Linked DNA regions of Homo sapiens. The protein of the gene in region 2 interacts with the protein of the main gene of each other region in a pairwise test. Each region holds a gene or a part of one and is shown on either strand. Other genes may lie near its edges.

Region 1 (7,830 bases), on a different chromosome or scaffold from region 2:
AGACTCCAGGTACAACAGCCCCAGGTGAAAGCTCCGGCTTGAGTTTACAAAGCAGGAGGCTGGAATTGCAGGCAGGTAAGACCTCAGGTGTCCAGGCCCAGAACTCTTTCAGAGTAGGAGGCACAACCTCAGGCCCTGCAGCAACTCCCAAGCTGAGCCCCACTTTAGAAAAGTCCTCATCGGGACTGACGGGGATCCCAGAACTCTCTCGTCTGCAACTCTGTTACGTATTTGGAAGTAAGGCAAGTATGCTAAAGCACTGCCTTCCTATAAAGAGCCATTTTTAGGAGTGTGTTTCTGTATACTGGTTAATTCCCGGCCCGTTTTTCTCTCCCATCCTTTTCCTCGTCACTAATGAAATATAAAATGCAATGCGGTCTCAGAATCCCTTTACCTTCCTCTGGGCAGCACTCACATCTGATATCACCTGGCTCCCCAAGCCCAGGCCTAGACCAAGACCCCTAGAAGCCAGCATGGCCCTGCATACAACCCTAAGCACCTGAATGAAGAAATGAATGAATGAAAATCTTGAAACTCACCCAAATAGGAATACGGTTTTCTATAGCAGACTGTACTTGGAGACAGTACACAGAAAGATCCCCCCAACAGACCGCCCCCCTCCCCGGGGGTGGGGGGGAATCTAATTTGTTAAAAGCAGCCAAGTGCTGTCAACCGAGCCCTCTGGGATCATCTTTATAGGTGAAATCACCTACTTGTAAAGAGTTACCTTTGATACTTGAATTCCAACCTCCTTCCAAAGGGACCCAAAGAAGCACCAAGCTTTCCACCCAATTCTTCCTTCCAGGAAAACAAGGAATTCCTGGGTGTAATAATGGAATCAGAGGCCTTATATAGACAGTGCTTCCCAGGAGCTGAATCATTCAGGCACTACTGGGACACCCAGATTCCTATCAGGACAAGAGTCTCCCTCAAGCCCCCTCAGAGGACAGTGACATCCGGCATAGAAACCCACAGCTCCCACCTACCAATCCCCCTCTTAGAGCAGACACGACGGCTTTCCCTCAGAATTAACACTGAACCCAGATGGGGGCCGAGCTCGCTCTCCTCACTCCACCCCCACAGGCTCAACCCTATTAGGACCCTCAACCTTGTTTCCAACCCACAAGTAGTTGGAAAACTCCAAAAGCAATCGGCCCGGGGCTGTTCTGGACCTGCTGAACCCTCTGGGGCACCAGGCTCGGTTCCTAGTGCACAGAAGGGCGTCACTAACTATGTGATGCGGACCGCAGGGCACCGGGGTTAAGGCTGAATCTGCCAGGTCCTTTTCCAGGGGCGCAGAACTTCCCTTGTGGCTGGGTCGGCAAAACCGAGGCCCACATCCCAGATAGAGATCAAATCGCCCTCCCCCACCGGGGGACTTCCGAAATTACCTCTCTGGATCTGGAAGCTTAATTAGCTGATTGGCCTCATTAACGTTCGAACTTGAGTTTCAAACGAAAAAGAGGTCACTCAACTATCCAATTTACAACCTCGAATTTCCACCCGAAAACCACTTTATTTTCGGATGGCCTCTGAGGACGCCCAGGCCCCTGCCAGCAGCTGCCAGCCCCCGAGAGCCTTACGTACTTTCGCCTGACCCCCCCACCACCCACCCCTCACCTGCCTGGCTCGAGCGCCTTCTCAGTTCCAGGCGCCCCGAGCCCCTTTAAAAGATCGGCTGCGAAAACCCACGGTCACCTGCACCACCCTTTCTCCCTCTGGGTGCTCCAGCCCCACGGAAAGGCAAGCCTCGCCCACGCGCCCACCCACCTCGAGCAGGGTGTCCGCACGCAGACCCGCCTGGAGGGCGCCGCGCTGCACCCCCACGCCAAGCCCCAGAACCCTGGCGGCGAGGTCCACCCCAGCCCCCGCATCCCCCCGAACCCGGGCGGCGAGGCCCGCTGCGGTGGTCGCACCTGCTGGCTCAGTCCGGCGGCTCCAGCCCAAGTGACGAGTGCGCTGTCGGCGTCTCTGGGAGCGGTCCCCGCGCCTGGCGCCCGGGGCCGGGGCCACCCGGTGGAGGCGCCTGGGCCGCGGGCTGGGCGGGCGGAGCTGCCCGGCCGCCGGGGAGGAGGGATGCCCGGGCGAAAGTTGCCAGGGAAACTTGATCAACTCGAGCGCGCCGGTGCCAGCTTCCTGCATAATTCACGGACGGTGGCGGCCGGGCTGCGCCCGCCGGGTCTCCCTATCCCAGCTGGTGAGCACGGCGGGCCGGGGTCGGGCACCCGGCTGTGGCTCAGCGCGACCCCCGGGACCTGGGCGCCCGACCCGCCACCCCCGGGCCCGCACCAGGCGCGCCGGCCCCGGCCTCTCCGCGACAGCTGCTGCTGCCGCCGCGCGCGCCTGGATGGGAGCTCTGCGTGCAGGGCCAGGGTGACCGCAGCGGGGTCTCGGGGGACCTGGCGGCCACGGTTCGGGTCTCCGCCCCCGCGCGCCACCTGGCGGCCCCGCGCCGGCTCCTCCGCTGGGCTCGCTGGCCCGGGTCCTAGGGCTGGCGGGCGGTGACCCGGGGCAAGGAGACCCCGGGAGAGCGGGGGAGGTCGCGCCACACGCGCTGTTCCAGAGGAAGGGGCAGGACGCGCCAGAGACTACGTGGTCCATGCGCGCAGGAGATAAAGCGGGGGCTCCTTCCTGCGCTCTGCCCCCACGCCGCTTCCAAAGCTTTCGACACCGGCCCCTGCCCGGGAAGAAAGGCATGCAGGGGGAAGGGCTCTCTACGGAAAATCGACCCCCACCTGGACACGCGGCTCACTCCCCCCAGCGCCCACCTCTCCAGCCTCTCTGGGTCCAGGACTGCGCTTACCCGGTAGTTGGTGCTCCCGGAATCGAGATGCCCCCAAAATGCCGTCAGTGAGCAGGATCGGGTGCCCAAGGGCCACCTCCCGTCCTCCCCGGCCCGCGCCCTGCGTCCCCGGCCGCCGCCTCACCTGGCTCGGCGAGTCGGGGGCGGGTCCGAGCCCCCCGGGAGCGCCAGCGTCCGCGCACACCTGGATCGGCCGCGGGAACCCGAGCGGCGCCGCGCCCAGCCCCGCCGGAGCTCAGGAGCCGCCGCCGCGGCTCAGGTGCAGGGGGTGGGGAAGGACCCGGCCCCGCCCGGCGCGGGAGCTGGCTCCGGCGAGGGTGGGGGAGGGGCCCTCTCGCCGCCGAAAGGACGCGTGCGGCCCAGGACCCGCGGGCGACCCGACCTGGACCCCCACCCCCGCCCACGCCGCGGACCTCAGTCCCCCGCCCCGACCCCGCTCCCGCCCGCGGCTGCGGCTCGGGCGTGCGCGTGGGGTCTGTTGTGGCAACCCCGGGAGACCGCGGGGCGCCCTGGCCGCCTCTGCCCCGCCCCGGGCTGCGTGGCTCACGGACCTCCCCCTCCCTGGCCAAAGCCGGCGGACGAGAAAGTCCCTGATTTTTGTAAAGTCCGGTTCGGTCTGCACGGTTATCCCGAACGCAGCTGGCTCCCGCCACAGAGTATTTATAATAATAGGATTTGGAAATAGAGGCTGCCTGCACATCAAAACGTTTGCAGAGCAAACGAAAACTTTGTACCCGGGTGATACGCCGGCGTCTGCTGCCCAGGCCACCAGTTCTGGGGCGCCTTCCGCCCAGGGGTGCACAACGGTATCTCCGCCAGCTGCCCTCCAAGCCAAGAAAAGCCAGGGGGTGGGGTGGGGGGAGCAAAAGCCAACGGCTCGGGTGAATCCCAGAGGCCAAAGGCACCCTCCGGAGACTCCAGGAATCCTGTTATTATCCAGGACTCCGGATTGCTAGGTTTGCGGAAGCCCAAAGGGGCGGGTCCTGAGCTTGGAGCTGTGGCCGCCGTGTGAGCCATCGGCTGATAGATTTTCTCAAGGCCTTAATCATTCACTGGGAGTCTCCCCCAGTACGAGCTGCGTGTTTCTGAGTAAGCTCTTGAGGTCTCTGTGTTCTGAGTTTTCCAGTATTCTGGAAGGTGTGGGTGGGGATCAGAGTCCAAGCTGTGGAGTAGAACTGTCTCCAGAACCCTGGAGCCCGGCATTATGCAAACCCCTAACTGTGCCCCCTACATAGAGTGAGTGTGTGTGTGTGTGTGTGTGTAAGTCAGTCTATCTTACAGGACATGCCTGAGAGGTTTGCATGGGCTGGTGACTTCAACATACCAAAGGCAAAGTTAAATATTTGCTCTAGATACTTTTTTTTTTCAGCTTGCATAATTGTCCCACATTTCAAAGAAGTCTTTAAAAGCACTTAGGTTAAAAAAAAAAAAGTTGTGTTTGGGGCCTGAATATTTCAGGACACACATGGAATAAATATTGTAACTCCTTGAGGGCAGCTGCCTTATGTAAATGTCTTTCTCGTCGCTGCTTCCTTAAGCATACACTTGATAAAATATTTGTTGAATGAATAAAGGAGTCAATCAATCAAAAAATAATAATCCCCAAAACAGGAAGAAGGACGCCCTGACAGGATCCTGCAGGCATCCTTTGTTTGGCATGGAAGCTGGGGTGCCTGGGAGAGGTGTGAGCAGGACAATCGGATGTTCTTTGGGTTGGCCGGTGGCAGATGCAAGACCTGGGTTGCAGGGAGTGGGGGTGGGGGCTCTACCTTTCCATAACAGTCCATCAGTACCCTCCCCACCAAAGAAGGCAAGTCATCTGAATAAAGTGGTGTATTTACCCTGCAAACCCAGCTCAAAGACCTATCCTCAGGATATTTCCCTCCTCTCACCAGATTCCCACCCCTGGAACACCCCTTCCTAGGTTTCTAGAACCACTGCTGCAGATAGACCAGGCAGCTGGTCACAGTTCAATTGTGAACATTTTTCGGCTATCTCCATGCAAGGTTTAAGACCGATGCCATTATGCTATCTCCAAGAAATACTTCCCTAGGGACGCAGGCCTCTGCCAGCCTTCCACCCAAGTGGACACCCCTTGGGCCATCCCCCTCCAGTCTTTCTGATCTGTTAGCCAACAAGAGCGCTGTGTGAGAGCCCCGACATTCGGCATTTTAAGGACAGCATCCTGCTTACGCCCCAGTTTCTTTGTGTCTGTTTAGAGATATCCAGTTCAGCCTTGTGCTCCGATGAAGCAACATCCTTCAAGTCTGTAAAAATCTCTTATGATCCCAAAACAAAGAAAATCAAGGTTACAGGTGATGGATACACTAATTTCCCTAATTTGATCATTACACATTGCATACGTGTATCAACATCTCACACTGGACCCATAAATACGTACAATTATGTGTCAACTAAAAGTATTGACAGCCAAAAAAAAAGGCTCTTATGAAAAGGTTCAGGGTCAGATAATGCTGCCACAGTGCCTTTATTCACATCTTAACGCTCTGAGCGGGCATCTCAGGTTGAGGGGAACACCTACCCCCCGCCGCTCATTTGAAGTAGGACCTCTTTTGGCATTCTAATTTCTGGGGGGCCCATAGCCACACACACCACCAAGTGCCTTGTTTTAGGTTCAGTTTAGGAAAAGAAGACATGACCCTCCTGGCTTCCTGGTTTCAGAACCCTCCGGTTTTGTTTCTGGAAGCTGCCTTCCAGGATTCACCAGGTTTTGCAGAAAGGAGTAAGCTTTTCCATCTGGTCATCTTGTCTTTTTTTCTTGTCCAACCTGAACCATGAAACCATCAGCCACATCTGTGGAGTACACGCTGTGTGGTCCTGAGCACGCTAGGACTTTCTGGGAAGAGTAACTGTTTTATAGAGAACTGGAAACTGGGACACCATACCATCAGGGATGTGAGATATAGCCACCTTTTTGGTCCTGGGGAAAACATTATAAATATTTTGTGGCTTAGATTAACCCAGATGCTCACTGCCTTCAGCAGCAGTCCCTTTCTCCCAGAGAAGCTCCTGGGTTTGGGGCTTAATGTATTAATAGTTGGAGGCCAGCACATCTTCAGAGAATGATTCTTAGACAGCCCGAGTGGGAGTGGCCTAACCCAAGGCAACCCTGTTATTTAACAGGTGGGAAGCTGAGGTCCAAGGAGGGGAGGAGACTCACTCAAGGGCGTGAGGTCAGAACCACACAGGCAGGTGTGCACAGGTGAAGCCAGGTAAAGGCAAGCACACACAGGTGAAGCCAGTTAAAGGCAGGTATGCCCAAGTAAAGGTAGGTGCTCTGGCCAGCAAGTCTGCCACATCCCCTCATCCCTGCCAGATTCTCCCGTGCTTTTGCCATTTTTTTCCTACTTGTTTTCCACTACAGCAAGAGGTCCACTTCCGTCCTGTTCCCGCCCATGTCAAATACTGGAAAATTCACTCATTTCTCCACAATTTTGTGACAACTTCTAATTCAATCACATAAACCTGATGCTGTAAGGATTCCCAGATTTTACATGTCCTCTCACTCCTGTGCAGAAGTGCCTCTCACGTCTCGCCTCTAGCTTACTGTGGATTTTTATTCCTCTCCATTAATTTTCCATGAGCTTATGTGGATGGATTTGCTGAGAAAAGCCTCCTGGGACTTTGAACGTAAGCATCTTGGCTGCCACCTGGGAGATTGGAGGGAGAGTTTGTTTCTCCTGGAATCTGAGCTGATGAGAGGGGATGGTCTGAAGCTTTTCCTGCTGCACTGGAGCGGGAGGATGTGGGGAGCAGCAGGCAGGAGGGAAAGCTGCGGGACAGGGTCTGCCAGGCTTCCCAGCCAGGCCATGAGCTCTTCCCTTGAGGCCCACGTCCGGAACAAGGGTGTCATCCACCTTCTCCCAGGCCTCCCTTGGGGGTGCAGGGCATCCTGTAGGATGGAGGAGTTCATTCCCCGAGGGGCCACTTCCAGTCCTTGTGGAAGCAGAGCTGGGAGGCTGGGAGAGGTTGCTGCTCTGCCTCCCTCCAGCAGGTGAACAGTCCTGCTGGGGCACATTCTCTGGCTTCTAGGAAGGGCCTTTGGAGCCTCCGTTGCTTACAGCAGGGTCCGGGACAAAATACCTTTATTTGGAGATGGCCTCCTTCTGCATCTCCCTTCCGCTGCTCCCTCACTCCTGCTCCCTGGAGTCAACTCTCAAATGGAGGAGCCTGCATCCAAGTCCTTGTTTCAGGGAAAGCATTGAGGGGAAACCCAAAATAATACAGTGCCCCCCCAACCCTTATTACAGGGGATACTTCGAAGACCCCCCAGTGGATGCCCGAAACTGCAGATAGTACTGACCCCGGTATATTACTATTTTTCTATCTCACGATCCGGCCGGGCAGGTAGTGTAGGCTGCATGGAGACACTGGACAAAGGGATGGTTCACATCCAGGGAGGGATGGGGCCGGATGCCCTGAGATTTCATCACACTGCTCAGAACAGCACACAGCTTAAAACTTATTAATTGTTTATTGATGAGATTTTCCATTTAATATTTCCATGCCTTGGTTGACCTGGGGTAACTGAGACCACAGAGAGTAAAACTATGGATAGGGGGCACTACTATATTAAAAACTGTCTTGTGGGCCAGGCACGGTGGCTCATGCCTATAATCCTAGCACTTTGGGAGGCCGAGGCGAGCGGATCACCTGTGGTCAGGAGTTTGAGACCAGCCTGGCCAACATGGCAAAACCCCATCTCTACTAAAAATACAAAAAATTAGCCAGGCATGGTGGCGGGTGCCTGTAATCCCAGCTACTCTGGAGGCTGAGGCACGAGAATCCCTTGAACCTGGGGGGCAGAGGTTGCAGTGAGCTGAGATCGCGTCACTGCACTCCAGCCTGAGTGACACAGGAAGACTCTGTCTCAAAACAAACAGATAAACAAAACAAAACAAAACAAAACAAACAGGAAAAAAACCTGTCTTGTGTCATGGGTCAGGACGCCTGAAGTCACCAGCAGACCATGTGAGTTGAGGCTCCTGTGAAGGAACCTCAAGGCG
Region 2 (4,916 bases):
ATCCTTTGTGGTCTAGACGCCATTCTTTCCTGCTGCATTTTTTTTAATGCCAAAGAGATGACTGTCTTTTGTTTTTGCAGTGGCATTGAAAATATCCGCCCATTTCATAGTTTGCTGCTGATAAGAGGAATGACCTCTTTCATCCTGTGTCAACTTTTCATGGCACAGTTTCTGCCCCTGTGATTGGAATTGCTTCCTGGGCCACCACAGTTATCCCGAGGCCCCTAGTCAGAGTCACCTTGGAACTGACTTAATTAACTCTCGAGTGTAGGAAATATCAATGGCCTCCCTCTCCCGTGACCCTGTATATTGTATATTGCTTGTGTGTTCGTGTGTGGTGTGCAAAAGGGTCTAACCTGGTGTAGCACCAACAAAGCTAAAGAACACAATCTGATATCTCTTCTTCCTCCTCTGTTTATTTAGGTTTGGTGGGAAGGGGACGGTGGGCGGGCCGGGGACAGAGCGGAGATGTTTTTAAGCTCTGAACCAAGCTTGCACCCGGTGACTTGCATCCTTAGAGGGGATGCAGGGGTTCTAAGATGCTGCTGCAGCCGCTGCTTCCTGGCCCATCTCTGGCACCAGGAGGAGTCTGGAGTCTCCAGAGAGAACCGCACTCAATGTGCTGGGAGCCGCAGGCTTTCCGCAGGGGGCCTTTAAAATACCCACTTCCTTCCCTTGGAGAGACCTAGTTCTGCAACCCAGCCTTACCCTGGGCCTTAAGCTTACCGGGATTTTTTTTTTTCTGCATCTTTTGAATGCCCAAGCCAGAATAATGAAGAAAAAAGTAGATATGCAGTGTGCAGATCAGAACTAACCACCCCTAGGTAAAAAACTGTGTGTTCTAACTACTGACCTATCCCAGTTTTTCCCAAGCTTGTCCTGAGAAGCTGTGTAATGTCCTGAACCTTCTGCTTTGATCAGGAGAGAAGGGCCCCTCCTCCAGTGCCAAAGAAGCCGGCGAAGGGCCCCGCGCCGCTGATCCGGGAGCGCTCGCTGGAGAGCTCGCAGCGCCAGGAGGCCCGCAAGCGCCTGATGGCCGCCAAGCGCGCCGCGTCCGTCCGCCAGAACTCGGCCACCGAGAGCGCCGAGAGCATCGAGATCTACATCCCCGAGGCGCAGACCCGGCTCTGAGCGCCCCGCAGCCCGGCCGCCGCCGCCAAGCATCTGTCCCCTCCTCCCCCGGCCGCTCCTCTGCCGGCTGCCTCTCCCCCTCCGAGCCCGTCCGCTCCCGAGCTCGGTGACTTCCACTGTCGCGGTGTAGTTGTCCACCTCGCAGGAGCCGCCCCCCGGGCCCCCCTCAGCCCCCCACTTCCCGTACCCGTTTGCCCATCTCCTTCTTCACCGAGCTTCGCCCCCTGTCCTGATGCCGTCGCCCTGCCTCATACTGAGATCCAACCCTTTATTTTCTGGGCAAAGCCAAACCCACCTGTGTAGAAGTGATGCCTTTAGGTCACCCGCCGTCCTCAGTTCTCTCGAGCTAGTCTGTTCAGCAATATAAAACCATAGGGTATTTCAGAAATCCAGTATCACAGGGTGATCCTTTGGGACTTACCGTCTTCCACGTGAAAGAAACTAGGCCTCCGATTCCCTTTATTTCCCCTAAATGGTTATTCTTTTAAAAAAGCAGATGGAGCACTTTATTCCCAACCTCAGAAATCACACCATCTCACTGGAATCCATGAGGGACACAGAGAGAGGGGACCAAGCCTGGCCTGGGGGTGGGGGACCTGGATGTGTAGCAAGGATGGGAGAAGCGAAATCTGCAGGTGCTGGGGGCACCTGCACACTCACAGCTGCACAAACTGCCTCACTGTTACTTCATCAATCACAGCTTCAAATGTCTCAATCAGCAGAAGATTGTAAATTCGATCTTTCAGGGAAATTAATCTATTCTGAAAGGCAATAACATGAAGCAAGGCAAAGGAGGCACTGATGGTTTAGTATACTACATAAGGGATTTTTTTGTTCTATTATTAAGAAAATCTAGACCTGAAATGTTTTCTCAACTCTTATTGTACTGTGTATATTTATATTGTTGTCGTGGCGGCTGTTTTTAAAGGGAAAGTGTTGGTTCTATTAATTTGTTAAGTGTCCATCCAGGTGGGCCTACCTGATTCCACATATATAAGTACATATCTGCTTATAAAGCGCTGTAAATGGCAGCAAGGCTGTTTTTGGAGAAGAGTTTGGGTTTTCCTACCATCCCTTTGAATGCTACACATCCGTCTATTTTAACCCAAGTAGTTCGTATTTCAGATATATTTTCTCCTTTCATCTCCTCTCACTACTGCAGAGTCCAGTAATACCTAGCATAGGATTCTGTCCTGTGTCAAATGGCTAAAATAAATTTTTGCCCCAATAGACATGCTGCCTCATTCAAAAGAGCTGCCGCTGTCATCTTGAGGTTCCAGGTAGTGAGAGAAGAAACTCGACCTGCCAGGGTCAACAGCCATGAAGAGGTGGGGGGAGTCATGATTCATAAACACTGAAAGAAGTCAAGGCTTTTGGCAGAGAGTGTTGATTTAGATTTTTAGTCTTGATTGATGGGCAGTATGCATCGGTGTCTAGCTGAAGTTGTCTTTAAATGCCCTTACTCGTCACAGTTTAAACACTTAGGATGTGGCAATCTTAAGTATCAATGGCATTTTATGTCCAGCTAACATCCTAAAGCATTAGAAATTAAAAACGAAAGACTTTTAAAAACATACATCAAACATGCTTGCACCAGAGAAGCTTTTTAAAATAATACACTCTCATAGCCAGGTGCTAATTTAATTTTACTTATGAAATTAAGAGAGGTGATGGGTTCTAGCAACAGATATTTTCACGGACATATTCTAAAACCACTAGAGAATTCGCTACCTCTCAGAGCCATCGATGCTTTGAGCTACCTTTATAAACAGGGCACAAATGTTTACTGCTGTGGTTTACAAGAAAAGGGCTACTCACTTATTTTGAAACCAACGAACCAACTTTTAACTAGGGTGAACAAAGCACTCAAAGTGCTTTGTGAAATTGGAGCATACAGAGATTTTGAGCTTCAAGTATTTGCTAGTTTTAAAAAGAATACACCTTTTCTTTACCTTGTAGCAGCAATTAAAAGTCACACAAAGCTTGCATCGAGTAGGGCCAACTGCCACTTGGGTAGCCTATGGTCACATTCAATACTGAGAATGACTTGGAACTCACAGATTAATATGAAAGAAGCAGCGTTCATCCCAAGACCCATGCTCACAATTACAGCTCCGTGCCCTGAGGTAGAGTTGAGATTTGGATTAAGAAATAGATTTCTAATACGACTCAAGATCATCCTACAATATTTTCTTTGGAAACTAATTTAGCCCATGATATTTTAAAGAGAGACAAGAGAAGGCCTATTTATCTTGTCTAAGTGAACGGCATTTGTATATTCATAAGCTATTTTTGGTAAGAATTTTAAATCTTTTAGCTCAAGGCCTACAGGGCATCATGATCTTTGCCTTCCTTGAAAATACAATTTAAATTGTACAAACACTTTATAAAAAGCTAATTATTGGTGTTAGAACATGACCCCACACAATGCTGCTTGACCCCTGAAACTGACATTCATGAGCATAACCTTTGTTACATTGTTCTTTTTGATGTAATTTGTAGAAATGTTTTTTAGTTCGTAATGGAAAATGTATGTACCCTGAAAAATTACTTATTTTGTTTAACTTTGGTATAAAGGTGTTGGGCATTTTCTTGGGGAGGGGGGGATTACAAAAGAAGTTTGTCTCCCACATCAAAAAACGTTCAAAGAAATTAAGTATTTATTATATTTTTTGCAGATGTTTCCATACAATTCACATAACCTTTTTGTAAAGAGAGATGAAGAAATGGATTAAAGATTTTTAATATTTGAAATGGTAAATAGAACTAATTTATTGTAATATATTTCTGTTATTTATAGATGTTTCCTTAATGTTTTACTGTGCATTACCACTTTCATTTAAGCCTTATCCTTGTGAATTTACCATTTCTTTTTTAAAACATGTCTAGATGCATATTTTAAATAACTGGAATGTAAATCACTAGCATATCTGAATTCCCAAATGTAATTTTTAAAAATTATTTTGGTTTGGAAAAAAAAGATTCATTTGAAAGCCTTCAGATGGAGGGGTGGGAACATTTTTATGGCTTTATGAATTGGAATTTCATAGGCTTATTTACCTAGATTGTGTGTGAACAAAAAAATATTGTAAATAGATGAATGTTTCCCATAATGTAAAAAGAAGAAATTAATAAAATAATTAATGCACTGCTTTCAGGTCTGTGTGTTTTTACTAGAGTCCCACTTCTTCCAAAATATGCTTTATTGTCTTTTGACGGGAATACTTCTGCAATTAAGAAGCGTATCATTCTAACTTTCACTGTACAGCACGTGTGCTATTCGTTGTTGATGACGTAGGGAGAACTTACATCCTGTTTAAAGGGGTTTCAATACCGAAGAACTAAAAAGTCCTTTTACTCTGATAATCCCACTCGTGAAGTTTCAGTTCAGAAGCTGAGAATAACTGTCTATCTTATGAAGGAGTGATGAGCCTTTCAAATGTGCAAATTCATGTCAGTTTTACCTACTTTGATTTCTTTGCATACATTTCATCCACTTTGTTTCCTACACAACTCTCAAGTGTAGGGAAAATCAGAAAAATGCTTTGTGGCTTCCATTCCATCCTTGCAATAATGAAAAACTGTGCCTCACTGAGGTTTAGTGACTTGCCCAATGTGCCACAATGATTAAAAGACAGATCTGAGTCCAGAACCCAAGGCTTTATTGAGCTCCTTTAGTGCCGTCTCTGTCATTCTTGCCACATTTAAAATTGGTAATTATTTGCCATTGTCAATTTTATCTGGTTTTCATTTAGGTCATATTTGTAAACCTTACTTTATATAAA

What was found.
Region 1: the proteins of DLGAP1 (region 2) and SHANK2 interact in a two-hybrid assay, tested with the Homo sapiens proteins (one study listed by BioGRID).

The regions. Positions count from the first base shown.
Region 1 is NC_000011.10:71,249,498-71,257,327, forward strand, and holds the start of SHANK2 (SH3 and multiple ankyrin repeat domains protein 2), read right to left. Parts: upstream 3,081-7,830; 5' UTR 2,928-3,080; exon of another isoform or gene 2,804-2,927; intron 2,376-2,803; exon of another isoform or gene 1,917-2,375; intron 1-1,916. UniProt on the Homo sapiens protein: Seems to be an adapter protein in the postsynaptic density (PSD) of excitatory synapses that interconnects receptors of the postsynaptic membrane including NMDA-type and metabotropic glutamate receptors, and the actin-based cytoskeleton.
Region 2 is NC_000018.10:3,495,400-3,500,315, reverse strand, and holds the end of DLGAP1 (disks large-associated protein 1), read left to right. Parts: intron 1-921; coding exon 922-1,131; 3' UTR 1,132-4,284; downstream 4,285-4,916. UniProt on the Homo sapiens protein: Part of the postsynaptic scaffold in neuronal cells.